Linked DNA regions of Homo sapiens. The protein of the gene in region 2 interacts with the protein of the main gene of each other region in a pairwise test. Each region holds a gene or a part of one and is shown on either strand. Other genes may lie near its edges. The genes, in order: PHF10, L3MBTL2, PAICS and EFHC2.

Evidence for each region.
Region 1: the proteins of L3MBTL2 (region 2) and PHF10 interact in binary tests that used the Homo sapiens proteins (3 or more experiments, as listed by UniProt).
Region 3: the proteins of L3MBTL2 (region 2) and PAICS interact in binary tests that used the Homo sapiens proteins (3 or more experiments, as listed by UniProt).
Region 4: the proteins of L3MBTL2 (region 2) and EFHC2 interact in binary tests that used the Homo sapiens proteins (3 or more experiments, as listed by UniProt).

What each region holds. Positions count from the first base shown.
Region 1 is NC_000006.12:169,714,484-169,721,506, reverse strand, and holds part of PHF10 (PHD finger protein 10), read left to right. Parts: intron 1-395; coding exon 396-502; intron 503-2,588; coding exon 2,589-2,719; intron 2,720-3,600; coding exon 3,601-3,684; intron 3,685-5,418; coding exon 5,419-5,552; intron 5,553-5,649; coding exon 5,650-5,799; intron 5,800-6,664; coding exon 6,665-6,774; intron 6,775-7,023. UniProt on the Homo sapiens protein: Involved in transcription activity regulation by chromatin remodeling. Belongs to the neural progenitors-specific chromatin remodeling complex (npBAF complex) and is required for the proliferation of neural progenitors.
Region 2 is NC_000022.11:41,201,143-41,208,325, forward strand, and holds the start of L3MBTL2 (lethal(3)malignant brain tumor-like protein 2), read left to right. Parts: upstream 1-4,169; 5' UTR 4,170-4,220; coding exon 4,221-4,244; intron 4,245-7,183. UniProt on the Homo sapiens protein: Putative Polycomb group (PcG) protein. PcG proteins maintain the transcriptionally repressive state of genes, probably via a modification of chromatin, rendering it heritably changed in its expressibility.
Region 3 is NC_000004.12:56,431,363-56,439,276, forward strand, and holds the start of PAICS (bifunctional phosphoribosylaminoimidazole carboxylase/phosphoribosylaminoimidazole succinocarboxamide synthetase), read left to right. Parts: upstream 1-4,897; 5' UTR 4,898-4,899; coding exon of another isoform or gene 4,900-4,950; coding exon 4,951-4,966; intron 4,967-7,914. Other genes in the region: PPAT (amidophosphoribosyltransferase), read right to left, coding at 3,988-4,115. UniProt on the Homo sapiens protein: Bifunctional phosphoribosylaminoimidazole carboxylase and phosphoribosylaminoimidazole succinocarboxamide synthetase catalyzing two reactions of the de novo purine biosynthetic pathway.
Region 4 is NC_000023.11:44,172,658-44,179,680, forward strand, and holds part of EFHC2 (EF-hand domain-containing family member C2), read right to left. Parts: intron 5,908-7,023; coding exon 5,710-5,907; intron 5,552-5,709; coding exon of another isoform or gene 5,550-5,551; intron 3,728-5,549; coding exon 3,635-3,727; intron 1-3,634. UniProt on the Homo sapiens protein: Microtubule inner protein (MIP) part of the dynein-decorated doublet microtubules (DMTs) in cilia axoneme, which is required for motile cilia beating.

The DNA.
Region 1 (7,023 bases), on a different chromosome or scaffold from region 2:
CCTAAAGTAGTCAATTAAAATAGTCCTATGAACCGGCTTCAAGTTGAATTGAGAACTGTAAATGATCCATACATTTTTTTCCCCCTGAGCTTGGGTAGGAGAGTTTGCTTTAATCCTAGAGTGATGCAGCAGTTTGATATGTTTATGAAGAGCAGAAACCAAAGCAGATTTGCATTTACGGGTTCATTGAAAATGTTCTTATTTGGATTGGATTGAAGATCAGTTTTAAATTTTATTCCAGGTCTTGCTCATGCCAAACTCTTGGACCCTTTTAATTATAATATGAAGTTAATACTTGTATGACTAGTTGTCCTTAGACAGTCTTTCATTTATTGAGACTTACTGTTCTTTTATTCTTTCTCTAATTATTATTTTTGAATCTTTTAAATGTATAGGATGATAATGAAGATAATTCAAATGATGGGACCCAGCCATCCAAAAGGAGGCGAATGGGCTCAGGAGATAGTTCTAGGAGTTGTGAAACTTCAAGTCAAGATCTTGGGTACTGTCATTTTATCGGTTATTAATATTTTTTGTGATGTTCCTCTTTGCCTTAACATCCTCTTCCCTTTCCCCCAGCTCTGGCAAAGGCAATTATTAAAAATTGTAGAATATTTTCTTCCTGTTCTATAATGTGCCATCAAAGTTGGTCTTGCTACTGAGTGTAATTAAAAAGCAATTTTATGATAGTAAAATACATACATACATAAAATTAATCATTTTAACAATTTTTAAGTGTGAAATTCATTGGCATCAGTTACATTCACAGTGTTGTGCAGCCATTACCACCATCCATTTCCAAAACTTTCACTACCCCAAACTTTATAACCATTAAGCAATAACCTCCCTTTCTCCCTCTATTTAGCGCCTTGCAACCATCATTCTACTTTCTATTTCCGTGAATACGACTACTTAGTTACTTCATATAAGTGGAACCATAAAATATTTGTCCTTTTGTGGCTGGCTTATTTCTCTTAGAACTTTGAATATCTTCAAGGTTCATCTTTGTAGCATATGTCAGACTTTTTTTCTGTTTTTAAGGCTGAATAATACTCCATTTTATGTATATACTGATTTTGTTTATCCATTCAGATGTTGATGGGCATTTGGGTTTCCACCTTCTGGCCAAGGTGAATAATGCTGCAGTGAGCATTGGTGTTCAGAGTTTGTGTTTTCAGTTTTTTTGGATGTTTATCTAGGAGTGGAGTAGCTGGATTATATGGTAATCCTATGTTTAATTTTTTGAGAAGCTGCCAAACTGTTTTCCATAGGGGCTGCACACCAATTTACATTCCTACCAGCAATTCACAGTTTCCAGTTTCTTCATATTTCTCACCAATTTGTTATTTTTCATTTTTTAAAATAATAGTTACCCTAAAAGGTGTGGAGTGATATTTTATTGTGATTTTGATTTGCATTTTCATAATGCCTACTGATATTGAACATCTTTTCATCTGCTTGGCCATTTGTATAGCTTCTTTGGAGACATGTCTATTCAAGTTCTTTGTCCATTTTTTATTTGGGGTTTTTTTTGTTGTAGGAGCTTTTTAAATATATTTTATATATTAATACTTCATCAAAAATATGATTTACACATATTTTCTCCTGTTCTGTGGGTTGTCTTTTCACTGTCTTGATAGTGTCCCTGTACAAAATTTTTAATTTTGATGAAGCCCAAATTTTTCATCTATTTTTTCTTTTGTTGCTTGTGCTTTTGGTGTCATATGTAAGAATCTACCTTCAAATCCAAGGTTGTGAAAGATTTCTATGTTTTCTTCTAAGAGTTTTCTAGTTAGCTCTTATATTTAGGTTGTTGATCCATTTTGAGTTGTGATATGAGGTAAAGGTCCAATTTTATACTTTTGCATGTGGATACCCAGTTTCCCAGCACCATTTTTGAGAACACTGTTCTTTTTGAAGGTTACTTTTTAAATAGATGGATGCATAACATAGTGTCACTTTCCCATGTCCAATATAGAGGTTGAATTGGCCCATATCCTGAAATCTGTACTCTGTTACTCAGGATGGAGATCGACTGTGATACCCTGGCACCTTCAAACTAGGTCCATTCTTTGCTTCTGGGTTTGTGGAGTATCTGAGAACAAACAGTTACGGTTTATGATATGATGCACTGAGATAATAGGTTTTTAAGAGTTCTGTTTTCTCAGCTATTTATGACTCACTGAACAGTAGACAAGAGACAGAAGTTGATTATTCTTTGGGTGGATGAAATACTGGCTATGCATTTTAAGCCCAAGAGAAAGAAGTCAGAGCTGATACCATCATCACCTTGCTTTGCCCTCATAGGTCCTTTAAACTAAAAATGCCTTCGTTCTTAGCAATTGTGATTCTACGTTCTTCCCAGTGTATAAAAGATGTTATTTTCACATACCTTTTTGACTTGGTAGACCAGATAATTATTTCTATTCCTTGTACCTGTTTTGTAATTTTCTTTGATACACAGGAAGTCAAGTCATAGGAGGCAAATAATTTAAATACTTAAAATAGTTTTCAAAATATCCTCAATAAAAGTGATTAAAAATTAATGAAAGCTACATTTAATGCATAATATGTATTTCTGTACTTAGTTTTAGTTACTATCCAGCAGAAAACTTGATAGAGTACAAATGGCCACCTGATGAAACAGGAGAATACTATATGCTTCAAGAACAAGTCAGTGAATATTTGGGTGTGACCTCCTTTAAAAGGAAATATCCAGGTACTAGTTTATATAATAGATTAATTTATAATTGATAGTAATTCTTTATGATACACTGTCAACTTCTGAATTTTTCTGTAGATTATATTTTATATTCTTGTGCTTGCTGTTTTTTTTTAAGACTAAGGGTCTCATTCTGTAACCCAGGCTAGAGCGCACTGGTGCGATTATAGCTCACTGCAGCCTTGCACTCCTGGGCTAGCTGTCTCCCTGCCTCAGCCTTCTAAGTATCTGGGACTACAGGTGTGCACCACGACGCGTGGCAGATTTTTTTAATTTTTATTTTTTTAGAGATGTGAAGTCTTGCTATGTTGCCCAGCGTGGTCTCAAACTCATGGCTTCAAGCTATCCTGCTGCCTCAGCCTCCTGAATTGCTAGGATTACAGGTGTGAGCCACCACGCCTGGCTGTGTTTCATTTACTGCTATCATTCAGCATCACTCTTCATTATTGATATTTTCTATGGCTCATAAACTGATTTAAAAGCAAAATGGGAAAGGTGAATTTCCTGAGGAAAATTTTAGAAAAAATCATTTTATAGTCAAGTTTGGGATTTTTACCATTGTTTCTTGATCTAAGGAATAGAGTTAGCTATATGAGCCGTATCTGAATTTGAGAAAGGCTATTCCTCATGAACTAGTTTAGTATAGTTATTTATATGACCTTCTTGCTTTGGATTATTCTATTTCCTATTTTATTCTAACTTTTGTATCTTGCTGAGTTTTATTTCTTGAATTTATAAATTTTTTTGTAGCCCCTTTAATAATATTTGGAATATGTAATATGAATACTTTAAAAAGTCAAGGTTTTTAAGCTTTTAAAAGTTTTACAAGTGCATAAGGTTTTGCTGTTTTTAATAGTCTTTTGATCTTTTTTTTGGAGATTTAGAGCGACGAGATTTGTCTCACAAGGAGAAACTCTACCTGAGAGAGCTAAATGTCATTACTGAAACTCAGTGCACTCTAGGTAAGAATAGCTTTTTAATGTGAATTTTTCAAGCTGAACATTTATGAGATAATACTAGATAAGTATCTTATTTCCTAAAATATTTTACAAAATTAATAAAATAAATTGAACTATTTAAATGCTACATTATTTACTTCATTTTTGATTATTGTTAAAATACACAGGAGAATGAAGCTTGAACACACATGTGGTTCCTGACTTATGATGGTTCAGCTTCATGATGGTGTGAAAGCAATGCATATTCAGTAGAAACCATACTTCAAGTGTCTATACAACCATTATTCTTTTCACTTGCAGTATAATATGTAACAAGTCACATGACATATTCAACACTTTATATTAAAATTTGTGTTAGCTGATTTTGCCCAGCTGTAGGCTAATGTAAGTTTTCTGAGCATGTTTAAGTTAGGCTAGGGTAAGCAAAGATGTTTGGTAGGCTAGATGTATTAAATGCTTTTACTTTTTAGGATAGTTTCAACTTAGGATGGGTTTATCATATGTAACCCCATTGCAAGTCAAGGATCAACCTCTATTCTATAACAGAGTATAATTGTCTAATTTTTCTCTTTTTTTTAACACAGAGTCTCTCTCTGTTGTCCAGGCTGGCATGCAGTGGCGCGATCTTAGCTCACTGCAACCTCCATCTCCCGGGTTCAAGGAATTCTCCCTCAGCCTACCGAGTAGCTGGTACTACAGGCGCATGTCATCACAGCCATCTAATTTTTGTATTTTTATTAGAGACGGGGTTTTACCATGTTGGCCAGGCTGGTCTCCAACTTCTGACCTTGTGATCCACCCACCTTGGTCTCCCAAAGTGCTGGGATTACAGGCATGAGCCACCATGCCCAGCCCTTGTCTAATAATTTTTACAGAGTTTTCAGAGTGTTTGTATTTTTTGTACAAAGCTTGTACAATATATTTTTTTAAGTTGCAGGTTCTTTGCTAAGTGCATGGTGTGTGCGTGTGGTCCCAGCTACTTGGGAGGCTGAGGGAGGAGGATCACTGGAACACAGGACTTTGGGGTTGTAGTGTGCTGTGATCATGTCTGTGAATAGCCACTGCACTCCAGCCTGGGCAAGATGGCGAGACCACATCTCTAAAATGCAAAAAGGCAAATTTTCTTCAATTTTTAGTTCTGTATAATTATGTCCGTGCTTTATTTGTAATCTTTTTTTCACAAACATTTTAATGCAACATGGCTACTTTTTATATAAATTCTTGGGAATGCATTTTAGCAATTGGTGAAATCTGATACTGTGAGTTTTGAAAATTGTCTCCATGGTGTGTGTGTGTGTGCTGATGTTTTTGGTGAAATTTTAATTGATTGTAATATTTCTTGTGTATGGAATTTGAAGACTGGGAACTATAATATGTTGAATTTTTTTTTATTCATCTAGTATTCTGTAGTACTTGTTAGTAGTTAGTGCATTTCATTATTTAACAGTTGTTTCCAACTAAAGGGATATATGTTCAAAGCACATAGAATCTTAAAAATAAACTTGTTTGGTTGAAAAATTGATATATTTGCCTTTTGCAAGATAATCTTTTGATTGCTCGAGTTTATATTGTGAATATTAAGTTTAATTATTTTCAAATGTACTAAGATATTTTGCTTTGGCTATTGGAAAACCATTACAACGTGGAGCGGTTTGAAGAATTAAATTTTGAAGAGTGCTTTTGTTCACTTATCCTTAAAAGAGCTTCTTTATTTTTTTATTTTTTGGTCTAAAATAGGCTTAACAGCATTGCGCAGTGATGAAGTGATTGATTTAATGATAAAAGAATATCCAGCCAAACATGCTGAGTATTCTGTTATTCTACAAGAAAAAGAACGTCAACGAATTACAGACCATTATAAAGAGTATTCCGTAAGTAATTGAGGTGACTGGCATTTTTTATTTGGGTTGGGGAAAATGACATTTTAGAAAGTTATATGTGACTTCCAACTGTATTTTTTTTTTCCAGCAAATGCAACAACAGAATACTCAGAAAGTTGAAGCCAGTAAAGTGCCTGAGTATATTAAGAAAGCTGCCAAAAAAGCAGCAGAATTTAATAGCAACTTAAACCGGGAACGCATGGAAGAAAGAAGAGCTTATTTTGACTTGCAGACACATGTAGGATAACTTAAATTTAGTACCCCCTGAACTTAGTTTATTACTTGTTATTGCAGAGTGCCCATCACCCCCTTTATCGTTATTTTTTGTACCACCTATGTGTGTGTGTTTTTTTTGTTTGTTTGTTTGTTTTGTTTTGTTTTTTGTGGCAGAGTCTGTGTAGCCCAGGATGGAGTGCAGTGGCATGATCTCGGCTCACTGCAACCTCCGCCTCCCGGGTTCAGGCGATGCTTCTGCCTCAGCCTCCCCATTAGCTGGGATTACAGGCGCCTGCCACCACACCCAGCTAATTTTTTGTATTTTTAGTAGAGATGGTGTTTTACCATGTTGGCCATGCTGACACCTGCGTGTTCTTTTTTTCCTCAGAAGTTGAGATGTTATTTTTAATGGTGTGCTTAATAATACTCAATTTACATTTTTTTGTGAGATGTCTTTTGCTTTACGGTTAATAATTCTAAATGAGACTAATAATAGCTACATATCATACTTGCTGTGCGTCCCAAGAGTTTTTAAGAGATTTGCATGTTAATTCTCATAGTAACCATGTGAGGTTGGAACTAGGATTACTTCCATTTCATAAAGAAATTGAGCTACAGAGAGGTCGTATAAGCTACCCAGATCACTCTGCTGTTAAGTAGTGAGCAAGAGATCCACTGCCATTCCTCAGGAGAATAGGCCTTTAAAACAATAATATATAGAACTGAAAGCACCAACTGTCCTCTTAGGTTATAGCTCCTGATATCTCCTAAAATTTTAGCTTTTCGAGGGGGAAGTGGGCGTGCAGTGGTGAGCACGTGGGGACTCTTCCTAAAGCCTTGATTCTTAGCATGGAATCAGTTTTGTGTTTCTCTTTATGTTAACGTAGGTTATCCAGGTACCTCAAGGGAAGTACAAAGTTTTGCCAACAGAGCGAACAAAGGTCAGTTCTTACCCAGTGGCTCTCATCCCCGGACAGTTCCAGGAATATTATAAGAGGTATTTAGTAGTTTTAGTTACAGTTGGTATCGGCTATTGGTAAGGGGTTTCAGAGCCTTTTGTACTTGCCTCCTAACAATTTTGGGGTCTATAGATATCACCGTAAGATATCGTATAGGATTTGTGTTGCTATTCTTCTCTGGTTCTGTGGTAAACAATACCCTGTAGTCAGAATTTGAATATATGCTGGTGAAGTCTAGATGCCTCTGTCTCTGCCCATTCTGTTTGGGTTTGTTAGAGACAGATGCT
Region 2 (7,183 bases):
CAGGAGAATCGCTTGAACCCAGGAAGCAGACGTTGCAGTGAGCTGAGATCACGCCATTGCACTCTAGCTTGGGCAACAAGAGCGAAACTCCGTCTCCAGAAAAAAAAAAAACAAAAGCAAAAAATGCATACATCAACAGTACAAGGAAGTAAAAACCTGAGCATCCAGTTTCAGCGTATGAGATAAGCAGAGCAGGAACACCAGTGACAGGAACCGTTGGCGTAAGTTGAAATGGCCGTTTATTAGGAATTCAGTTGAAACATCTTATTAAGCACAGGTTGCTAAGCAATAGTGGCCGCCCCAGAACAGTAACAGTGTGGCAGTTCCTTCTGCTATGGAGCTCCTGGGCAGGGGTTTCATCCTGCAGCAAAGGTACCCTTTTTGGCTGGACTAATTCATCCCTCTACATGTGGACCTAATACGCTCCTCTCTTTTAAGGCCCTCCCTCTGTGCATCACTGTCCCTCTGTCTGGGATCATTGATCTGTCTCTCTCTACTAGATCACTCCCAATAGCAACACAAACGTGCTCTTCTGTTCCAAACTATGTACATAAATCCCTTAAACTCACCTCTTCTGCTCTATGCCCTGCCATTGTGCTATTCCACCCAGACAACTTTTTTGTTGTTGTTGGTTTTTGTTTGTTTGTTTGTTTTTTGAGAGAAAATCTTGCTCTGTCGCCCAGGCTGGAGTACAGTGGCATAATCTCGGCTCACTGCATCCTCCACCGCCCTGATTCAAGCAATTCTCCGGTCTCAGCCTCCCGAGTAGCTGAGACTACAGGCGCATGTCACCACACCCGGCTAATTTTTGTAGTTTTAGCACAGATGGGGTTTCACCATATTGGTCAGGCTGGTCTCGAACTCCTGACCTCAGGTGATCCACCTGCCTCAGCCTTCCAAAGTCCTTGGATTACAGGCATGAGCCACTGTGCCCGGCCAATATTTTTCTATTTTTAGTAGAGATGGGGTTTCACCATGTTAGCTAGGCTGGTCTCAAACTCCTGACCTCAAGTGATCCACCCACCTCAGCCTCCCAAGTAGCTGGGACTATACGCTTGTGCCACCACACCAGGCTAATATTTTGTAATTTTTTTTAATTGACACAGGGTTTTCACCATGTTGGCCAGGGTGGTCTAGAATTCCTTTTTTGTTTTTTTTCCAAGCTGGAGTGCAATGGCGCGATCTCAGCTCACTGCAACTTCCGCCTCCTAGGTTCAAGCGATTCTCCTGCCTCAGCCTCCGGAGTTGCTGGGATTACAGGCATGCCTCACCAAGCCCGGCTAATTTTTGTATTTTTAGTAAAGATGGGGTTTCACCATGTCGGCCAGGCTGGTCTTGAACTCCTGACCTCAGGTGATCCGCCCACCTTGGCCTCCCAAAGTCCTGGGATTACAGGCGTGAGCCACCGCGTCTGGCAGAACTCCTGATATCAAGTTATCCACCTGCCTCAGCGTCCCAAAGTGCTGGGATTACAGGTGTGAGCCACCATGCCCAGCCAGACAACTTTTTTTTTTCTCTGTCACCAGGGTAGAGTGCAGTGGCATGAACATGGTTCACTGTAGCCTCAACCTCCTGGGCTCAAGCAATCCTCCCTCCTCAGCCTCCAGAGTATCTGGGACCACAGGTACATGCCACTACACTTAGCTAATTTTAAAAAATTTTTAGCTGGGCACAGTGGCTCAGGCCTGTGATCCCAGCACTTTGGGAGGCCAAGGCAGGCGGATCACGAGGTCAGGCGATCAAGACCATTTGCCCAGGTGGGCGAATCACCTGAGGTCGGGAGTTCGAGACCAGCCTGACCAACATGGAGAAACCCCATCTCTACTAAAAATACAAAAAAAAAAAAAAAAAATTAGCCAGGTGTGGTGGTGCATGCCTGTAATCCTAGCTACTTGGGAGGCTGAGGCAGGAGAATTGCCTGAACCTGGGAGGCAGAGGTTGTGATGAGCCGAGATCGCGCCATTGCACTCAAGCCTGGGCAACAAGAGTGAAACTCTGTCTCAAAAACAAACAAACAAAAAAACTCTAATGCCGTTCCCTTGCACAGAATAAAATCCAAGCACTCCACAAGACCCTGAATGACCTGGTCTCAGCTTTCTCTCAAACCTCATCTTGTATCACCCTCTCCATGTTTTGCTATATCCATCTACTCTCTCTGTCTTTCTGTTTATTGCATACCAAGCTTGAGTTGGCCCCAGGACCTTTGCACTTGCTGTTCCACCAATGTGGCCTTTGCACTTGCTGAACCAACCTGTCTTTTTCTTTTTTTTTCACCACTATCTTATTCCAGAACATTTATTTTTATTTTTATTTTTTGAGATGGAGTCTTGCTCTGTTGCCCAGGCTGGAGTGTAGTGGTGCAATCTCGGCTCACTGCAACCTCTGACTCCCTTGTTCAAGCGATTCTCCTGCCTTAGCCTCCCAAGTAGCTGGGATTACAGGCACCCGTCATCACACCCAGCTAATAGTTGTATTTTTAGTAGAGATAGGGTTTCATCATCTTGGCCAGGCTGGTCTCGATCTCCTGACCTTGTGATCTGTCCATCTTGGCCTCCCAAAGTGCTGGGATTACAGGCGTGATCCACTGCACCCGGCCAGGTCAATGAGTTTTAAAGATCACCTGTGTGTATTAAAGGTGAAGATTTAAAAAGGGTGACCACAGGAGGTGGAGGTTGCAGTGAGTGGAGATCCCACTGCATTCCAGCCTGGGCGACAGGGGAGACTCCATCTCAATCAATCAATCAATCAATAAAAGAAAGAAAGAAAGGGTGACCAGTTGAAGGGCTGCTGCAATGGGCCGGTGGCTTGTATTAGAGTGGTAGTGGTGGAGGAAATACAGGATATATTTTGGAGGTAGAAAAACCAACACGTTGACAGCATGGATACAGGGGTTTAGGGTGGAAGGGGTTGAAGGAAAGAAAGACCTCTAGGAAGAGTTTGACATCTCCACGGCGGACTTCAAATTTAGGCATATATTTTATATGTATTCAGCCTCCACATATTGCATTTAGAGTCTCAATTAATTCACTGGGACACGGCATGGCATAGGGAAGGAATCTGTACTAAATTTGGAATCCCAATCCTGTGTGATCTTGGAAAGTGCCTAAACCTGAAGTGGTGAAGAGCCACCACTTCCTCTTCTTTCAAACGGTGATAGGATGTCTAAGGGTTTGAAAAGATGTTTGCAAAGCTCCACAACAGCACCTAGAACTCAGGGTGTCTAAGGAGGTTGTGGGAAACCCTAACGGGATGAGGCAGAGAGCCTCAGATTCGAGGTTTTTACCCAGGAGAGAGTGGTGAAGGAGGAATGTTGTAAGATTTTGAGCAGGCTGGACATTTACAGTATTGAGAAAAAGAATATTCCAGTTTCAGCCGGGCGCGGTGGTTCACGCCTGTAATCCCAGCACTTTGGGAGGCCGAGGCGGGTGGATCCCGAGGTCAGGAGTTCAAGACCAGCCTGGTGAAACCCCGTCTCTACTAAAAAATACAAAAATTAGCCGGGCTTGGTGGTGGGCGCCTGTAGTCCCAGTTACTTGGGAGGCTGAGGCAGGAGAATCGCTTGAACCTGGCAGGCGTAGGTTGCAGTGAACCGAGATCGCGCCACGGCACTCCAGCCTGGGCGACAGGGCAAGACTTCGTCTCAAGAAAACACACACACACACACACACACACACACACACACACACACACACACACACAGAGTATTCCAGTTTCTTCCTTTTTTTTTTCTTTTTAATCTGGAGTAGTCCAGTTTCTGCCTGAGTTGGAAATGAGTCCCTCTGCTATGCATCCCAGCAAAAGGGCACCTTAAATATCTAACCCGGGAGAGTACGAGGTTATTCCTGGAGTCTGGAACAGTGACTATCATAGGTGCTCAATAACCGTTTAGGGAAGAATAACATCCAGTGAAGTCAAGAGGTTGGCGTAATTGGAACACTCGGCGTGAGGCGCACCAGGTTTCCAGCGCCCCTGGTTTCCACGTCGCTATGGTAACGACTCACCCTGCACACATGCGAACTACAATTCCCATAACCGCCCGCGGCTTCCCCGCCCACAGGGAGAGAATGGCGGGAGCAGGCACGGAACCGGCTTTTCCTCCTTCCTGCAGCGTGATTGGCCCGCGGCTCAGGGAGGCGACCAATGAGTGCTCTCGCGGAGAGCGACGGGGCAGGCCAATATGGCTTCCTGCACCTGGTGACGCTTGGCGAAACTGAGGTCTCATGGAGAAGCCCCGGAGTATTGAGGTGAGAAGGCGAGGACTTAGCGTGACTGGGAAAGGGAACTCCGAGAGCCTCGCTCCGTGGGCCCTTCTTTAGGGCTTTTAGCGACGCCTGGAGGGTGGAGGGTGGGAGGATGGATAAACTGAGGTAGTTAAACTGAGCCAGGGGCAGAGGCAATTGACGTTACTTTTTGCCCCTCTCCTGCTGGGGCCAACGTTCGGCGAGGAGTTCAGGGAGGAACAGCCGTCCCTGGCCTGGGGGAAAGGGAACTAGGTTTAGGATCTGAGAGCTCCTGAATCTTCCTTATCCTGCTTGTCTCGTGGCTGTGTTGTTTAGGGCTTGTGAGGCCTGTTACATGAGGTGGGAAGTGAAGGGAGATTAAAGTTGGGTGAACATCACTCCTTGTCTGTAACGTTCACGTGCATTATCTTCCAGTACACTCACAGCAATCATGTATTATTCTTTCGTCTTTGTCGTTCAAGCCACTGAGGCTTAGAGGTGGTGCGACACCCCAGGAAGTTACCCCGGCTGGAAAGTGAAGGAGATTGGCACTAAGTCTGTCCGCCTCTGAAACTTTGCCTGTTATGCTTTTCACACTGTACTGCAACCTGGAACCCACTCATCCTTTTTTTTTTTTCTTTCAGACGGAGTCTTGCTCTGTCACCTAGGCTGGAGTGCAGTGGCGCGATCTCGGCTCACTGCAACCTCCGTCTCCCGGGTTCAAGCAATTCTGTCTCCATCTCCCATGTTCCTGGGATTACAGGCATGTGTCACCACACCCGGCTAATTTTTGTATTTTTAGTAGAGACGAGGTTTTGCCATGTTGGTCGGATTGGTCTCGAACTCCTGACCTCAGGTGATCTGTCTGCTTCACCTCGGCCTCCCAAAGTGCTGGGATTACAGGCATGAGCCACTGCACCCCGCCTCATCCTTTAATCATTTGGTTTCTGGGCACCTTATATTTAAGAGACGGGGTGTTCCTATGTTGCCCTGGCTGGAATGCAGTGGTTACTCACAGGCGTGATGACAACGCACTGCAGCCTCTAACTCTTGGGCTCAAGCAATCCTTACACCTCAGCCTCCTAAGTAGCTGGGACTATAGGTGGTCTCTGTCACCCTGCCTGACAAGGGTACCTATATTTGAATTGTTTCCTTGCTGGGTGCGGTGGCTCACGCCTGTAATCCCAGCACTTTGGGAGGCCGAGGCGGGCAGATCACGAGGTCAGGAGATCGAGACCATCCTGGCTAACATGGTGAAACCCCATCTCTACTAAAAATACAAAAAAATTAGCCGGGCGTGGTGGCAGGCACCTGTAGTCCCAGCTACTCGGGAGGCTGAGGCGGGAGAATGGCGTGAACGTGGGAGGCGGAGCTTGCAGTGAGCCGAGATCGGGCCACTGCACCACTGCACTCCAGCCTGGACGACAGAGCGAGACTGTGTCTCAAAAAAAAAAAAAAATTGCTTCCTTTCTAGCATATTTGCATGTGTAGTTGCAAATATAAGGTGGAATAGCTCAAACTTTCTGCAAGGGTAAACGAGAATAATCATGTGGAGAATAAGAATAGCAAGTCACACTTTTAGAGCTGTTACTGACTGCTGGAAATAGAACTAGGTTTTACATATCTTATCTCAATCTTCGTAAGAATTCTCTAAAGAAAGCTTATTACCTCTCTTGTAATGATGACAGCAGCAAGATAAAATACGCACAAAATCACACAGTTAATAAATGTTAGAGCCAGGATTCAAACTCAGGCAAATCAGAGCCTATGCTTTCAACCAGTAAAAATTGGCAACCTTTATTGAGCACTTACTATATGCAAGTCACTATTCTGAGAGCTTTGCCTGTATCGTCTCTTACTTCTCCCCCAAATCCTTTTTTTTTTTTTTTTTTTTTTTTTGAAACAGGGTTGCTCTCTGTCACCCAGGCTGGAGTGCAGTGGTGCAGTCATAGCTAACTGCAGCCTTGACCTCCCTGGCTCAAGAGTTCCTCCCACCTCAGCCTCCCTAACCAAAACACCCAGCTAATTTTTTCCATTTTTTATAGAGACAGGGTTTCCCTATGTTGCCCAGTCTGGTCTTGAACTCCTAGGCTCAAGCAATCCTCCTGTCTCGGCCTCCCAAAGTGCTGGGATTACAGGCATGAGCCACCATGGCCAGCCCCCAAACCCTATGAAATAGGTGGTACTATCCTCATTGTACAGATGTGGAAACTGAAGCACTGCAAAATTGACTTGCTGCAGGTCATACAGCGAGTAAGCACTAGAGATATTTGAGCTCTGGACCAGAGGCCAAACTTTTCTCCTTTCTTCACACCTTTTTTTTCCTTTGAGACAGTGTCTTCCCTCTGTCATCCAGGCTGGAGTGCAATGGTGTGATCATGATTCAGTGCAGCCTTGACCTCCCAGGCTCAAGCTGTCTTCCCACCTCAGCCTTCTGAGTAGCTAGAGCCACAGGTGCATGCCACCACCACCCAGCTTTTTTTTTTTGAGAAGGAGTCTCACTCTGTTGCCCAGGCTGGAGGGCAGTGGTGCAATCTCGGCTCACTGCAACCTCCAACTCCTGGGTTCAAGTGATTCTCCTGCCTCAGCCTCCCGAGTAGCTGGGATTTCAGGCACCCACCATCATGCCCAGCTATTTTTTGTATTTTTACTAGAGATGGGATTTCACCATGTTGGCCAGGATGGTCTTGAACTCCTGGTCTTAAGTGATCCGCCCGCCTCGGTCACCCAAAGTGCTGGGATTATAGGTGTGAGCCACCGCACCCAGCTTTTTTTTCTTTTTCTTTGGAGACAGGATGTCATTCTCTTGCCCAGGCTGGATTGCAGTGGCATGGTTATGGCTCACTACAGCCTTGACCTCCCAGGCTCAAGCAGTCCTTCCACCTCAGCTCCAAGAAGCTGGGACTACAGGCGCATGCCACCACACCTGGCTAATTTTTTTTTCTTTTGTAGAGATGGGGTGT
Region 3 (7,914 bases), on a different chromosome or scaffold from region 2:
GCATCTCTCATTCTCACAAGTGCCTTTCCAGTGGTAATGTTCTGTACTCTGTTTGCAGAACCAGTGTCTAAATCTCTTAAGAAAAGTGCTCCTGAGATCATTACAAATCAGTTTCCTCAAAGCGTAATAACAGAACCAAAAGATTCTACAGAATGTTTCTGCAGACAGAAAACCCAACTTCATCAGGTAAATCTTATAAATTTTTAGAAGTATGAAAATGTTTGTCATTGTAAGGTTCAATTCCTAACCAGGAGAAGTGATAATTCATTGAATGGAAGGGCATGGTTATCTCCTAATCAAGGAAAGGCTAATTAGCTGATTCATGGCATAAATCTACAGACATTTACTAATTCCTTTTATGGAATCTTCAAATATGTCCAGGCCATTCTAGTCTCCATAAAATGTGACTGTGTTTTAAAGATGAAAATGTTTATTCTAAGAAGGGGTGTCTGGTTTGTTCAGAACTCCGCAAACTACTGAAATGATGTTTTCAGGACCAAAACAGCATTTGGTGATTATATAAATCAGGCATGAACATACCCACACACATGCATGCACAGTTTACAGCTAAGAGGACATGTGAAAATTCCCCTACAGAAAGCAGAGCTACGGAATAAATCTGAAGACAGCCAGAACTACTAAAAACGGGGAGTACATCTGGATGAACCCATCTGGGTTAAATATCCAGTGCATGACTGGCTTAACTAATTGATACTCTATTTATTTTTATATGAAATGGCTAATATACCTTCCAGGTATTCTGTTAACCCCAGGACTAAATGTTTCAGATTAGATTATACCCAAGACAAAAAACTGGACCAAATACAAAACAAAAGTGATAGAAATCTCACCTTCTAGATTCCATCTTCTTAAAGATAAGGTTGGCCAGGCATGGTGGCTCACGCCTGTAATCTCAGCACTTTGGGAGACCGAAGAGGGTGGATCACTTGAGGCCAGGAGTTCAAGACCAGCCTGGTCAACATGGTGAAACCCCGTCTCTGCTAAAAATACAAAAATTACCTGAGTGTGGTGGCGGGCGCCTGTAATCCCAGCTACTCGGGAGACAGGTACGAGAATCACTTGAACTTGGGAAACGGAGGTTGCAATGAGCCCAGATCATACCACTCCACTCCAGCCTAGGTGACAGAGTGAGACCCTGTCTCAAAAAAAAAAAAAAAAAAGGGAGGCCAAGGCGGGCAGATCACGAGGTCAGGAGATCGAGACCATCCTGGCTAACACAGTGAAACCCCGTTTCTACTAAAAATACAAAAAATTAGCCGGGCGTGGTGGGGGGCGCCTGTAGTCCCAGCTACTCGGGAGGCTGAGGCAGGAGAATGGCGTGAACCCGGGAGGCGGAGCTTGCAGTGAGGGGAGACTGCGCCACTGAACTCCACCCCAGCCTGGGAGACAGCGAGACTCTGTCTCAAAAAAAAAAAAAAAATCAAGAAGATAATATATAAGAAATAAATTCCTTCATCAAAAAGGAAAAAAACACAATCAAACCTTTTTGCAGTTGTTTTAAAACTAACCAGTGAGTGAATGAGGGTGAGAAAGTGAAAACAGAGCTTTCTGCAACAGACCACCACTTCTCAGAGTACGATATATATATACATATATACATACACACACGTATTTTATATATATATATATAAAACTAAACTAAAAGAAAAAGTTCTTAGTTTTATTCTGGCCCTTATCTATCAGTTTCGAGCAGCAGATAATTGTATTTCCAAGACATAAGGGAGTGTCATTGTTCTTCCAAGCAGAATCAGTCCTCCCAAAGGATGAGCACTTTAGCTCATGTAAAATTTTGAATTGATTATGGGTGAGAACCAGCCCTCTTTGTGCACCTTAATGATTCTATGCCTACACAAGAGAAATGTTAAATTGTTTTTCAGTAATACATTTGTTCCTCAAAACCACATAATCACATCATTATTGCCCTTATCTGGTATTATTTAATCTTACAATTCTTTCACAGAAAAGCAACTATAGAAAACAGATATATGTAACCAGGAATCAAATGGTATTCATTAAAAAAAAAAAAAAAGAAAAAAAAAACCTATAACCATGAATACCAAGTATTTTCCTAAACTGGGTACTAAAACTCCAACCAGTGCTAACATGTAAGTTAAAAAAAAAAAAAAGCCTCTTTTTCTTCAGGCACACATTTAAAGGGAAGGAGAAAGGGGGATGAAAATTTCTTGAATAACTTTGGCAAAAAAAGTAAATATAGTGAAGTACAGTTCATACATATTTTCTACAGACCACCAGGCAACCCTAAAGACCTCTAGATTCTCCCTCACCCCCATGACAGAGTATCCAAAATAACAACTGTTTTTTTTTTTTTGAGACGGAGTCTCGCTCTGTCGCCCAGGCTGGAGTGCAGTGGCGTGATCTCTGCTCTCTGGAACCTAAGCCTCCCGGGTTCAAGCGATTCTCCTGCCTCAGCCTCCGGAGTAGCTAGGACTACAGGAGCGCATCACCACACCCAGCTAATTGTATTTTTAGCAGAGATGGGGTTTCACCATGTTGGCCAGGATGGTCTCGATCTCTTAACCTCGTGATCCGCCCGCCTCGGCCTCCCAAAGTGCTGGGATTACAGGCGTGAGCCACCGCGCCTGGCCATAGTTTCTAAGAATGTTACAAACTAATGTTGCTCACAACTACCACATAATCAAGAGTTTACTTTCTCCTTGGATTACGTAACTAATTTTCTCAATAAACTTTTTTTAAAAAAAACAAGAAATCTATTATGGTCAACCCACAATTATCCAAGATTGGAGCTACGCAAGTTAAAAATATTCTTTTTGATGCTTCCCACATTCTCAGCTCTTTAGTAAACAAGGAACACACAAAATGTGAAACTGAAATTGAAGTACCTGGGACAATGAAAACAGCAAAAAATACTTCTAATTTAAGTTTGGTGGAGGAAAAGCTAATCTTTTGGAATGCGTTTATACGTGTTGCACCCATTTTGCTGTTACGTGTTATTGCCAAGTTCCTTAACTGTAGTGTAAGTTGTTACCACTGTATTGCCTTATGGAAACTGTAATACTTTCAGTAAGAATATCAAACCCAGGTTTGTTTTTCTTATCCTAGTGTAATAATTTATATCAACTTCCAGTTAAGTCAGGTAGTAAGAAAAGGAAAGATCACCGAAGCAAAGTAATTTTTTTTAACTCGAAAGGATCTCCCAATTTTTCAAAATCAAGTGTATGGATCTTGGCATAGAGACACTACTCCCCTGTCCCCCTTTTGAAGAAGGGAGTTAATTTTTGTCATGTTATTACCAACGTTTTCATTCATTAGGCAAGACGTCTACCAATGAATCTTTTCCAGATGCACTGTTCCCTATGGTTGGCTTATTTCCATTTAATTTATGTGAGATCTACTACCAGTAGTCATTCTCAACATCAACTAGTCATCTTTCCCTGGGTCTGAAGTCTAGCATCCTCAAGTTCCCATAGCGATAACTACTTTCAAACCCATAATCTGCTCAATAGCTCTGCCCTTGCAAACAAAAGCTTGTGGTGGTTGGAGGCCCCGCGCGAAAACCTTTAGGTGTTGAAGGACCTGGACTGGCCGCCACGCCACACTAGCCTATTACAGGAGCAGCCACAGGCTCCGGGAGACTAGAACCCGCCTGCAGTCGGGGAGGAGCCCTGACCCAGCTAGACCAAGCAAACCGGCGGTTTACAAGCTGGCCAGCCTCTGGATGGGTGCACACACCGGGGGGCGGGGAGGGAGAGAGCCCCTAAAAGGCATAAGTGGCTGGGAGGGTGGGCAGGACAGGCTAAAGTTCATGGAAGCGAGGTGCCCCTCGTGCACGCCTAGGCAACCCGGTCGACGCCACAGGCAGGTACTGGCTTAGGTCGGAGAGGTCGGTCCTCCCGGGCCCTCGGGCGCTCATGAGAACGCCGACTGCGGGAAGCGGCTCCGAGAGATGGAGACGCACGCCCCCGCCACCCCCACCCTGTTGCTCACCGGTGCTGCAGCCCCACGAGTCCCAGAGTGATCACATGCGGTACATCCAGCTGCGTGGGCCACTCTCCTGAGGCGATGCACCCGAACACGCCACATTCCTCTCGGATCCCCAACTCCTCCAGCTCCATGTCGCCGCCGAAAGCACGTGGAAGGACCTGCCGCTGCGGCCAAGGTGTAAGCACCAACCAGCTGCCAGCTCGGCCCGTCGAGCTCAGAAGCTCGCGCTCGCGACAGGCTCTTCCTTCCCGAGGGTGGCCCCAGCTACTGCGGCGGCGCGCGCTGTCCCTAGGTGGCGTGGCCAGCTCAGCCCTGCTCCTCCCCCTCCGAGTCCACCAACGAGCGAGGGCGGAGGGGCGGTCCCGCGGCTGAGGGGCGGGGTCACGGATGCTGTAGGGTGGAGCTAGCCTTCCCCTAAGAGCTGCCTGGAAAGCTGTATTTGCTGCACGTGGAAATCTCCGTTATTTTCCAGCACCCAACAGTAGCGTAATGGGAGTAACGGACTTAACCTCATTTCTCTTTCAGAGCATTTAGCCTTCATATGCCCTTCCCTGCATGCTTCCCCCAGGCCGTCAAGACTTGGTACGCTCCAACTTCTGAGTCGCTCCCGCAGCCGAGAAGGGGCCGGGGTATGCGAGCTTCCGCAGAGTGGGGAGGGGCCGCCAGTGCGCGCCACTTTTCGCCTGTCCGGGCACTGCGCCAGCGCGGGGCGGCCCGGAGGCGGGGTCGCGTCTCTGCGCCTGCGCGGCGGGAAGCCAGTGGGGCGTTGTTTCGTCCGATATCCGCGTTTCAGTCTCCGCCCATACCCCTCCGGGTTAGGCGGCTGTAGCGGAGCTCGAAAAGAGTGGCGCAGGGTCGCGCGGCCCCGCCTCCTTCCCCGCCCAGCGAAGCTCTCTGACCACCCCTCTTTTCTAGAGTTCTGCCTCGCTTCCCGGCGCGGTCGCAGCCCTCAGCCCACTTAGGATAATGGCGACAGCTGAGGGTGAGTAACAGGGATCCGGGCCCTTCACGGTCTCCCTGACCCCCAGGCCGTGAGCTCGCGGCCACGTGCGAGCCGCGAAACTCTGTCCCGCCTCCCTGCAGCAGCGCCTCTAGGCAGCCGCGCGGGCGCACACGTGGCCCAGGCGCTCCCGGGCCTCCCCGAACTTTACTGCCTCGGGGATGGGGAGAAGGAGCAAAGTAGAGGAGAACGAGAAATGGCCAAGGGGTGGAAAGGTGCCTGGAAGTATTATTTATAATCAATAGCTATTGCAAAATACAAGCAAATCAGTCTTGATTCGTCAAAACCTGAGTCTTGCTTTGCCCGTTAGGTTAATGACCTTTCTAAGAAGGTTAATAATTGAAACTTTTGAAAGACCTGTCTAGAGGCCGGGCCTGGTGGCTCACGCCTGTAATCCCAGCACTTTGGGAGGCCAAGGCGGGCGGATCACCTGAGGTCAGTAGTACGAGACCAGCCTGGCCAACATGGCGAAACCCCGTCTCTTACTAAAAATACAAAAAATTAGCTGGACGTGGTGGCGCGCGCCTGTAATCCCCAGCTACTCAGGAGGCTGAGGTAGGAGAATCGCTTGAACCCGGAGGCGGAGGTTGCAGTGAGCCGAGATCGCGCCATTGCACTCCAGCCTGGGCGACAAAGCGAGACTCCGTCTCAAAAAAGAAAAAGAAAAACCTGTCTAGGGGGCGTGTGTGTAAGTAGTCTTTGATGCCATGGTGTGTGTGTGTGTGTGCACGCGCGCGTGAAGTAGTCTTTGATGCCACGATAGCTTGGGGTGTGTGTACGTGCGTGTGCGTGTTTAAGTAGTCTTTGATGTCATGGGTGTGTATGTGTGTGCGCGCGCGTGTTGAAGTAGTCTGATTCCATGATGGCTGGGGAGGGGGGCTGTTTTTAGGTAGTCTTTGATGCCATGATGGTGTGTGTGTGTGTGTGTGTGTGTGTGTGTGTGTGTGTGTGTTCGTTCCAGTAGTCTTTGATGCCACGATGGCTTTGAAGAACTCCAAAACCTTTAGGCAAAAAAGTTGCACTATCAGGAAAGATTGTTCTTGCTATTTATGCTGGAAAAAAACAAATGCTGGTTTTTTCCACACACCCAGTTGCTATATGTATAGTGAGGCAAATTGCTTTTGTGGCTGCTGGGTACATTCTTTTCCACATAGAAAGTAACTGAATTCAGATTTTAAAAAGCTGTAGACTCAGGCCGGGCGCTGTGGCTCACGCCTGTAATCCCCAGCACTTTGGGAGTCCCAGGCGGGCGGATCACGAGGTCAGGAGATCGAGATCATCCTGACCAACATGGTGAAACCCCGGCTCTACTAAAAATGCAAAAATTTGCTGGACGTGGTGGCGTATGCCTGTAATCCTAGCTACTCGGGAACCTGAGGCAGGAGAATCACTTGAACCGGGGAGTCAGAGGCTGCAGTGAGCCGGGATCGCGCCACTGCACTCCAGCCTGGCGACAGAGAGAGACTCTGTCTCAAAAAAAAAAAAAAAAAAAAAAAAAAGCTGTAGACTCAGCAAAAAAGATTCAGATGATATTGAGTATCAACTCCCTAGAATCAAGGCAAGGACCAGAATTTTTCTTGCAATCATGGTACCTGTACCTCTAAAATGGCAAATCTCTAAAATCTTTGCTCTTCCACTTCTTTCCATTTGTGTACCGTTGGCAGGTTGATTTTTCTTAAATGTCACTTTTATGGTCTCTAAAAGGCAAAAGTGGCAACAAAGGCAAAAATGGCATCTCTAGAGATGTTAAATCCAGTCTGTCCAGTCTGAAATCCCTTTTCATTCAAATCCTGAATACTGCTATCCCTTCTACCTCTTCAGCCCTAACTTTGATTTTTCTCTCCTGTGAATCCTTAGCTATGTTCCAGTCAGGTTAATTCACCAAAGTTTGTTTTTCATTATATACATTTTATTTATATTATTTTTCCCAGAACATTGCTGGCTAATGGAAATATAATGTAAATTTGTCTTCTATAAGCCACATTTTAAAAAGTAAAATAATAAAAAAAACTGGTGCAATGTGTTTATATATATATATATATATATATATATATATAAAAGGTTTTTTTTGTTGTTGTTTTTTGTTTGTTTTGCTTTGTTTTTGAAATGGAGTCTCGCTCTGTGTGGCCCAGGCTGGAGTGCAGTGGCAAGATCTCAGCTCACTGCACCCTCCACTTTCCAGGTTCAAGTGATTCTCCTGCCTCAGCCCCCCAAGTAGCTGGGATTACAGGCACACTCCACCACACCCGGCTAATTTTTTTTTGTATTTTTTAGTAGAGTCAGGGTTTTGCCATGTTGGCCAAGCTGGTCTCAAACTCCTGACCTCAAGTGATCTGCCTGTCTCAGCCTCCCAAAGTGCTGGGATTACAGGCGTGAGCCCATTTTAATATATTTTATTTAACCCTATATACACAAAATACATTTCAACATGGAGTCAAGATGAAAAATTCTTTAGATATTTTACAATTTTTTATATCGAATGCAGTATATATTTTAACAAATGACATTTCAACTTGTAATAGCCACATTTCTAGTGGCTGCCTTATTGGACAGCAGAGTCCTAGAATTTTCTTATCCTTTGTGTAAATTCTGTGCTTTCCCAGACTCTTAAATTTCAATTCCATGAATCATTTTCAGTCCTCATCAATCTTTCCAGAATTCATCTACAAATTTGTAGCAACCATTTTGGTACTTGCAGGGTATGTCACGTATGGTTGTTTCTTATGTTGTTTCTACCCATTAATTCAAATTCCTTCCCTCTTTAATGACTAAGTAATACAGATTCAACTAAATTAAGGGGAGGGGCATTAGATACAAACTTTGCCCGGGCTTACTGCATATTAATATATATAAATGTTAATTTCTTTATCTGATCTGGGCACTGTTTTTTTTGTTTTTGTTTTTTCTTGAGACGGAGTCTCCCTCTCTTG
Region 4 (7,023 bases), on a different chromosome or scaffold from region 2:
AGAGGCTCATCTTGGCCTGGAGCACAGTCTTTCAGTGAGAGACTCTCAGAGTTTATACTTATGAAATGAGGAATAATGCCTACTGCCAATTAAAATGTACCTTTTAATATGCTCAAAAATTTACAAAATATTCTAAGGCCCTTAGCACTACATCAATACAAAGTATCACTCCTATTATTAATGGATAATCGCTACCACTATATAGAACATTTAAGTCTGATGCTCTGTGCATTAATGAAATGAATTTGCTTGGTAAGTAAGGTGACCTTATACCAGCTCCCACAGCACAAACTGACAGGGGCTGAGGTAACCAGGTACAAAAAGGTTTTGAAGTCCTGATTCCAGTTTGAGTTATGTTAACATAATAAGGAAAAGATCAAGCTGAATTATAAGAAAAATGGGAATGGAGTAGAAGGAAAATCCTGGTACCAAAATATAGGGTTAGGAGAAATACATGGGTAACAATTACTGGGTGAAAGAAAGCATCCAACCCTTTAGCCATATTGTTTTTCATCTCCTGATCTGAATTTACACAGCAGGGTTACACGGCTGCTCAGCAGCTGCCCAGCTCCATTCCAAGGCAGGTAAAACTATTCCTGGGCAAGAGCATGCATTGAACAAAATCAACAAGCTCCATGCCTGCCTCCCACGGGAGACTGTAGACGTCAGAGGGGGCTCTGGCTTAGCGTGCCATAAGGAGGGCTGTGCAGAAAGAGACTCTGGTCAGGGCTCTGTAAAGCCCTGTGGAGTCTGTGGGGAACAATAAGAATGCAGAATATAAATGTAAGCTGCAGGCTGATGGGCCCATTAGGAATTAGGGCAGTCTTTGAAAGGAATCTGCAGAGATGATGCAAAACACTAAGCATGTGACCCAAATCATGGCAGGGCATATTGGAGGGAGAGGGGAATGGGAATGAGACATTTTCTAATCTGATTAGTCTGAAGTTTCCCCTGAGTGTGGAGAAGGGTCACTGCACAATTAGAGGCAAAGTTAGACTGAACATGGTCTGCTTAGCAGCTGAGCGGGATGACCTCCTCAAAGCTAAGCTGGGCTTGGAGACAGATGTGTTCAGAGACTGAGATGACTTCGAAGCAAGTTCTGAAACAATCTTTTTGCATTTAATGTCAAATCGTAAAGGCAAAGACAAAACAGTCTGCTGAGAGAATGAGAGGATGATGACTTGGTGGCCTCAGCACTGGATAAGAAACATGTAGGTCCTCCAGAGGCCAGGCTCCCACATTACTGGACTTTCCAGGACAACTCATCCTTAAGACCATCAAAAGATAATCTAATAAACATCCACAGCTTCCTGACTAGAAGACAGCTTAATGTGTGAAAGGCATTCAGATCCAATTGTTGAAAAACATGGCTTCCTCTACATAGAAAGACACAGGTTTCTTCCAGTTCATTTCTAAGTCTGAGTGTGTGGTCTATGGTCCCTGACTTAAATTTCTCTCCTAGTCCTCAATCAATTCTTTGCACCAGGTACTGTGCTGGGTACTTTATGTATGTTATCTCAATTAATCCTCTGAACCACTAGGAAATAGGTACTGTTACGTCATTCGAGAGATAAGGAATCTGAGGTTCAGGCAGGTCAAAACCCTTGCACAAGATCACACAGCTAATAAGTGGACTCAAAGAATTTAAGAGATGGGAGTGGAGGAGGGGGGTAAAATTGTCAGGATGTGACAACCCATTGGTTATTTATAGGTGGTAAATCACACAGAAGCAGTGTCTGCATCTGAATGAATCGAAGTTCAAGTCACAACTCTTCATTCCAAGGTAAGGGATAAAGAGACACATAAATAGCACTGTGAGAATTCTGAGCAGGAGATAATCACTCTGATTATCAGCCAAACGAATGCAACAGAGCTTCATGGATATGGTGCCACTTGAAATGGGTCTTGAAGGAAGAGCAAGCTTTCAGCAAGTGAAAACCATTGGGAGCTATTGCCTACTGATGAAATAGCAAGGGAAAAGGCCAAAAAAAAAAGGGGGGGGGAGGGGGAAGGCAGGAGGTATATGTGTAATATGCTAAACGGCCCATGTGGCTGGACTACTGGGAACAGGAAGGGGAGTTTTGGGAGTGGGGGATGATATCTGTGAAGAACTCTGAGTCCAAGGCCTGCCTACTTCATCTCAGTTCCTTCACGGCAGGATCCCTCACACGGCTGCTAGCAAATAAAAGCAAATAGAGTTAAACAAAAACAAAATCAAAACAAAACAAATAGAACTGATAATCTAGAAAATTATTCCAGGTTGATTCAATGCACATACACATCCAACTAGATTTGCCCTCTTCTGGGTTTCCCTCCTGATACCTTGGACCCTAGTTCCCTGACATAGAATTTGGCTTTATCTGTTCCTTTGGTTTCTCCTTTTGTCTCAAACAAGGACTCCCTACTTCAGACCCTATTTGAGAACAATGCTCCAGCTGCGAACCCTAAGCCCCACTATGGAGAAGGAGCTTAATTCAAAGTTAAAGAGCTGGTCCTTCCTTAGAGAGCAAAGAGACACCACAGAAGGTTTGTGAGTAAAAGTGCAATAAGATGACATACATTTTTGCTCTTAGAAGGTACTTAGCTGCTATATGTAAAGATGGATTTAAACATTTAGACACTGGTGGATGAAAGACCAATGTGGTGGCACCGCAGTATTTAAGAAGCAATGTGGGTCAGAACAAGAATGATGATAGTGGAAATGGAGAGGAGAGAGTAGAAGCAAGCAGTAAGGAGGAGGTAGAACTGTCAAGACATCCTAATCTACTGGCTATTTGTAGACAGTAACTCAAAATGATTAGAAGCAGAGGATGTGCATTTGAAAAGTTCAGGATTCAAATCAGAGCTCTTCTTCTTCTACACTATGTGACTTTGGGCAAAATACCTCATCTCTCTAAACCTCAGCATCCTTACGTATGAGATAAGAAGGATAACAGTTTCGACCTCACCAAGCTGTTCTCAAAAAGTAAATGAGATAATATATCCAAAACAATGATCACAATGCCTAGAACACAGCTGAAAATGTCAGAATTATCAAGATATATAAGTCAGAGGAGGAGCTAGAGTGAGTGATGCTATAGGAAGCATAAGAGATGGCCAGAGTCTAGGTGGCTGAGAGGGACATGCCAGGAAATCAAAAGTCAGGTTCAACAGGAGAACTGATGTGTTTTAGAAAGCAGTTCACCATGCTCTCATTTTATAGCATCATAATCTCTATGTTTTACATCTGGTGCTCTATCAGGACAGAGCCCCATGCTAATAACCCTAGGTTCTCTTACTGCATGTCTATAGCTATCAGGAACTGCTGCTTTGAAAAACCTGCCCTGAATTTTACATCTAATGTCCTCCTAACCAACAAAGTTGTGTATTTCATTTTGTCCCAGGAATCTGTGGATCTATAAGTGTGTATTCATGTTAAAAAGATAAAATAATAATTTGTAATAGGCTCTCTAACATTCAAAATCAAGACAAACTTTTCCTTCTGTAACACTTAAATGGAGGCAGGTCACCAATAATATAATCAAAACAGTTAAGGGTAAATCAAGGGTAATTAAAGGGAGATGTAAAACCAGGAATGGTCCCCCAAATAAAACTATGCAGGACAATCCCTATCAAGAGTGGAACTCTAACTTACCTTGACAATAAGGATTCTAGAAGATCATCACTCAAAGGTAATCTGGAGGATTTGCACAGCCTTTTAATGTCTTTGGTGGGTAATACATTTTTTCTGCATTAAAACAACGTAAATGAGCTTTTATATACCTTGTATACCTTTAGTAATAATTACATACTATAGGAAAGAAAATACATTTGTGATGTTTCCTGAGAATGTACACATGGAAGTATGAAAATTGGTATTGGAATTCACAATAAGGAAGAACAGTCACATTTCATTTCATCAACTTTTTCTATTTCAGAGGCCACCAGACTCCATCCTTACAAAGGCTTTTCCTTCAAGATGCAGATTCTTGGTTGGTGACAGTACAGCCTATTAAGGCTACAGCCACAAGTGTTGCTCTAAGTAATTGATCTGCATTCTTGACCACTAGTCAAAAATGGTTCTGATATTTGAAAACATCTCTTAATTTGACAGGCATCTAGAGCCTCCAACACAAGTATGATATGACTTGAGGGTGTTTTTCTGTTCTTTTCCTTGGACCCAAACCTTATCACCTGGAAGCCCCAGCTGGGGCCTCAATATTCACTTCAATTTTTTCAGATGCTAGCAGTTTTCTCTAGAGCAGCCCAAAAGTCATTTTCTCCAGTCTTATGGGGGCAAAGACATTCTTGTCCAATGTTCTCATTCAGCCAACACTTTTCCAGGCATCGGGCAAAATTAGAACCAACAGGAAAGAAAGTTGGCTCTTTTCTTTGCAATGAGAATGTTTATATCTAGAATCAAAGCTTGATGGATCTGGAAGAACCTCAGGCTATCTGGTCAAGCAGCCCCATTGTTCCTAAGAAGTGTTCCTTGAATGAAGGAGGGCCACACTTCTCACTCTGGGGAAGGGGGCAACACCAGGGTGGAAGGCAGGGCCAGGGCCATGCAAAACTCAGGCCACACATCTTCTAGGAAGCTTGGGAAAGCTTAAAGAGTCAAGGAAAAATACCATCTTTATAAAAACTCAAAGAGGATGCATTATGGATTAATAAAAAAAATGATTATTTCTAAGACAAACTATGGGACCTACACAGATATTCAGGGAATGCAGTTGGCCACTTGGGTTCAGACTTCAAGTTTGGGGATAAGGCAAGAAGTCACAAGGAAGAGAGATGGCAGTGGTGTGCAGCAATACGGATTAGAAGCTAGAGCAAGAACTAAGATTTTTCTAATTCCAGATGAAATCAGTAAATTTATATTTCTCCCCACTGTATAAGGTCTGTAAGATGAATGCAAAAAAAACACATTAAGTTGTTTGCATCCAGTTGTATGTAACAATGACTTAATGAAGCTCAACACGCACACAATCAATGTATAAGAAATAGCTTATACTGAACTTCATTATTTTCAAGAAGAAATAATTTCAAAGAAATTCTACAGAATGTTTGCTTGAAAATTCCATTTTCTATTTATTATAAAAGTTACATTTATAAATCCCCATCAGTACTAAAATAATGTAAAAAGACGACATCTCAGAATTAACCCTCCTAACATTTTGATTTACTATGCTTCAGTTGAAAGCTTCTAGAAACAAATGAAAAGAACATGCAAGGGAGAAGCCTATTCTTTCAAAGATACAGGGCCTCCCCTATTCCGTCAACAAGACTAGCCTGGCCAACATGGTGAAACCCTGTCTCTACTAAAAATACAAAAAAAAAAAAAATTAGCTGGGTGCGGTGGTGCGAGCCTGTAGTCCCAACTACTCAGGAGGCTGAGGCAGGAGACTCTCTTGAACCTGGGAGGTGGAGGTTGCAGTGAGCCGAGGTTGCGCCACTGCACTCTAGCCTGGGCGACAGGGCCAGATGCCATATCACACACACACACACACACACACACACACACACACACACAAGCTCTCCATCACTGGGAAATATCTGTACCTAAATACTTCTCCGAAAATGATTTAAGGTGTTTGTGCTAAATAGTAGAGTATGAGTATGATGACACATGTCTATTTTCTTTTTGCACTTTTTGATAAAATAGAAATTCCTTCATTACTCAGGTTCACAGAAATGTAAATGATTAGAATCAATAAAACAAAAGCTTACTTTTCTCGATCTTCATACACACAGGAATAAATGAAAGTGTCGAAATTCTCAAACATATTTTTCTTGAACTTTTCGTGGGCCAGTGCGATTAAGAAATCCATATCTGAACATGTGCCCTCAGGCACACGGTAGTGACGTGCAATGGTTACAAATTCTTGCTCTGCAAGGTTTCCAACAGTCAAAGACATCAATATGTCTCTGTAATAAAAATGGAAAAACATTTATAAACTGATATCTAAGAATACAGTATTTTACATCTCCTTCTATTTAAAAGATCCAAATTCCATTTTACAAAACTTTTACCAACTGTACAGAGGTCATGTGATTTTTTTAACTTAATTTCTCTTCTTAATTTGGGAGCAGCAGGAAGGCACCAATGCCAGAATGGAAAATCATAGGCACTGTAGCTTATAAATAAAATGGCATTTTGCCCAGAGTTAAACACCTACCAAATAACAGCCTGCAACCAGGAAGTAAATTTTTAAAGGCTTTGAATGGTCAAAAAACCTATTACTAAGTACATGACTTTATTCAATGCCTATTAATCTTCCTTACACAAAATAGTAACAGGCTTGGGTTTCTGGTTTCCTGGGACATAAAATTTGTAAGTTAATAAATTAGAAAGGTGTTTTGGGATGGGGAAAGCAATCATGCACATTTCTGTAATAAAAAGTAAAACTGGACACACCCTGGCAGTGAGAAAAAAAAACAAGAGAAAAAAAAATGAAAAGTTAAAAGACCTATGTAAGCGTACAGCTGTCTGCATCTTTAGAAGGCAAATGGTACTGAGATTATTAGGCAGAGCTAAAAAAAAAAAACTAAACAACAACATATCAATGAAGACGACTCAAGGCCTAGCAAATTGGCTGAATTGTTTTCAATGTAACTCTGTATGAAAGCCATAAACTAAGCAGCATACACCAGACAGAATTATATCAAAATGATTAAAATGCAAAATGTTATGGTGGTTACAGGAATAAGCTTCCACTGTCTAGAAAATTTATTTACTGGAAATAATTCAGTTCCCAAGAATCCTGAATAAACAAGGGAATAGAAAATTTTATTTGGCCTTCTGCTAGAAAGAGGTCTTTCAGAATAAATGCTTTCAGTTCTTTTAGGTATTTCTGGACATTATCATCTAATAATTCTAGATTCTCCTAGTCAAGAATTTCCATAGAGTCTAGGAAAGCCCACAGCATTGATGTTGACCTATCTAAAGGAAATTCATTTAATCTACATCTACTTCTCAAGTTTCCTGGGTTGTTTTGTTTTGTTTAAATTTGGTTTTGCTTTTGTATTTTTAATGGGAAATGA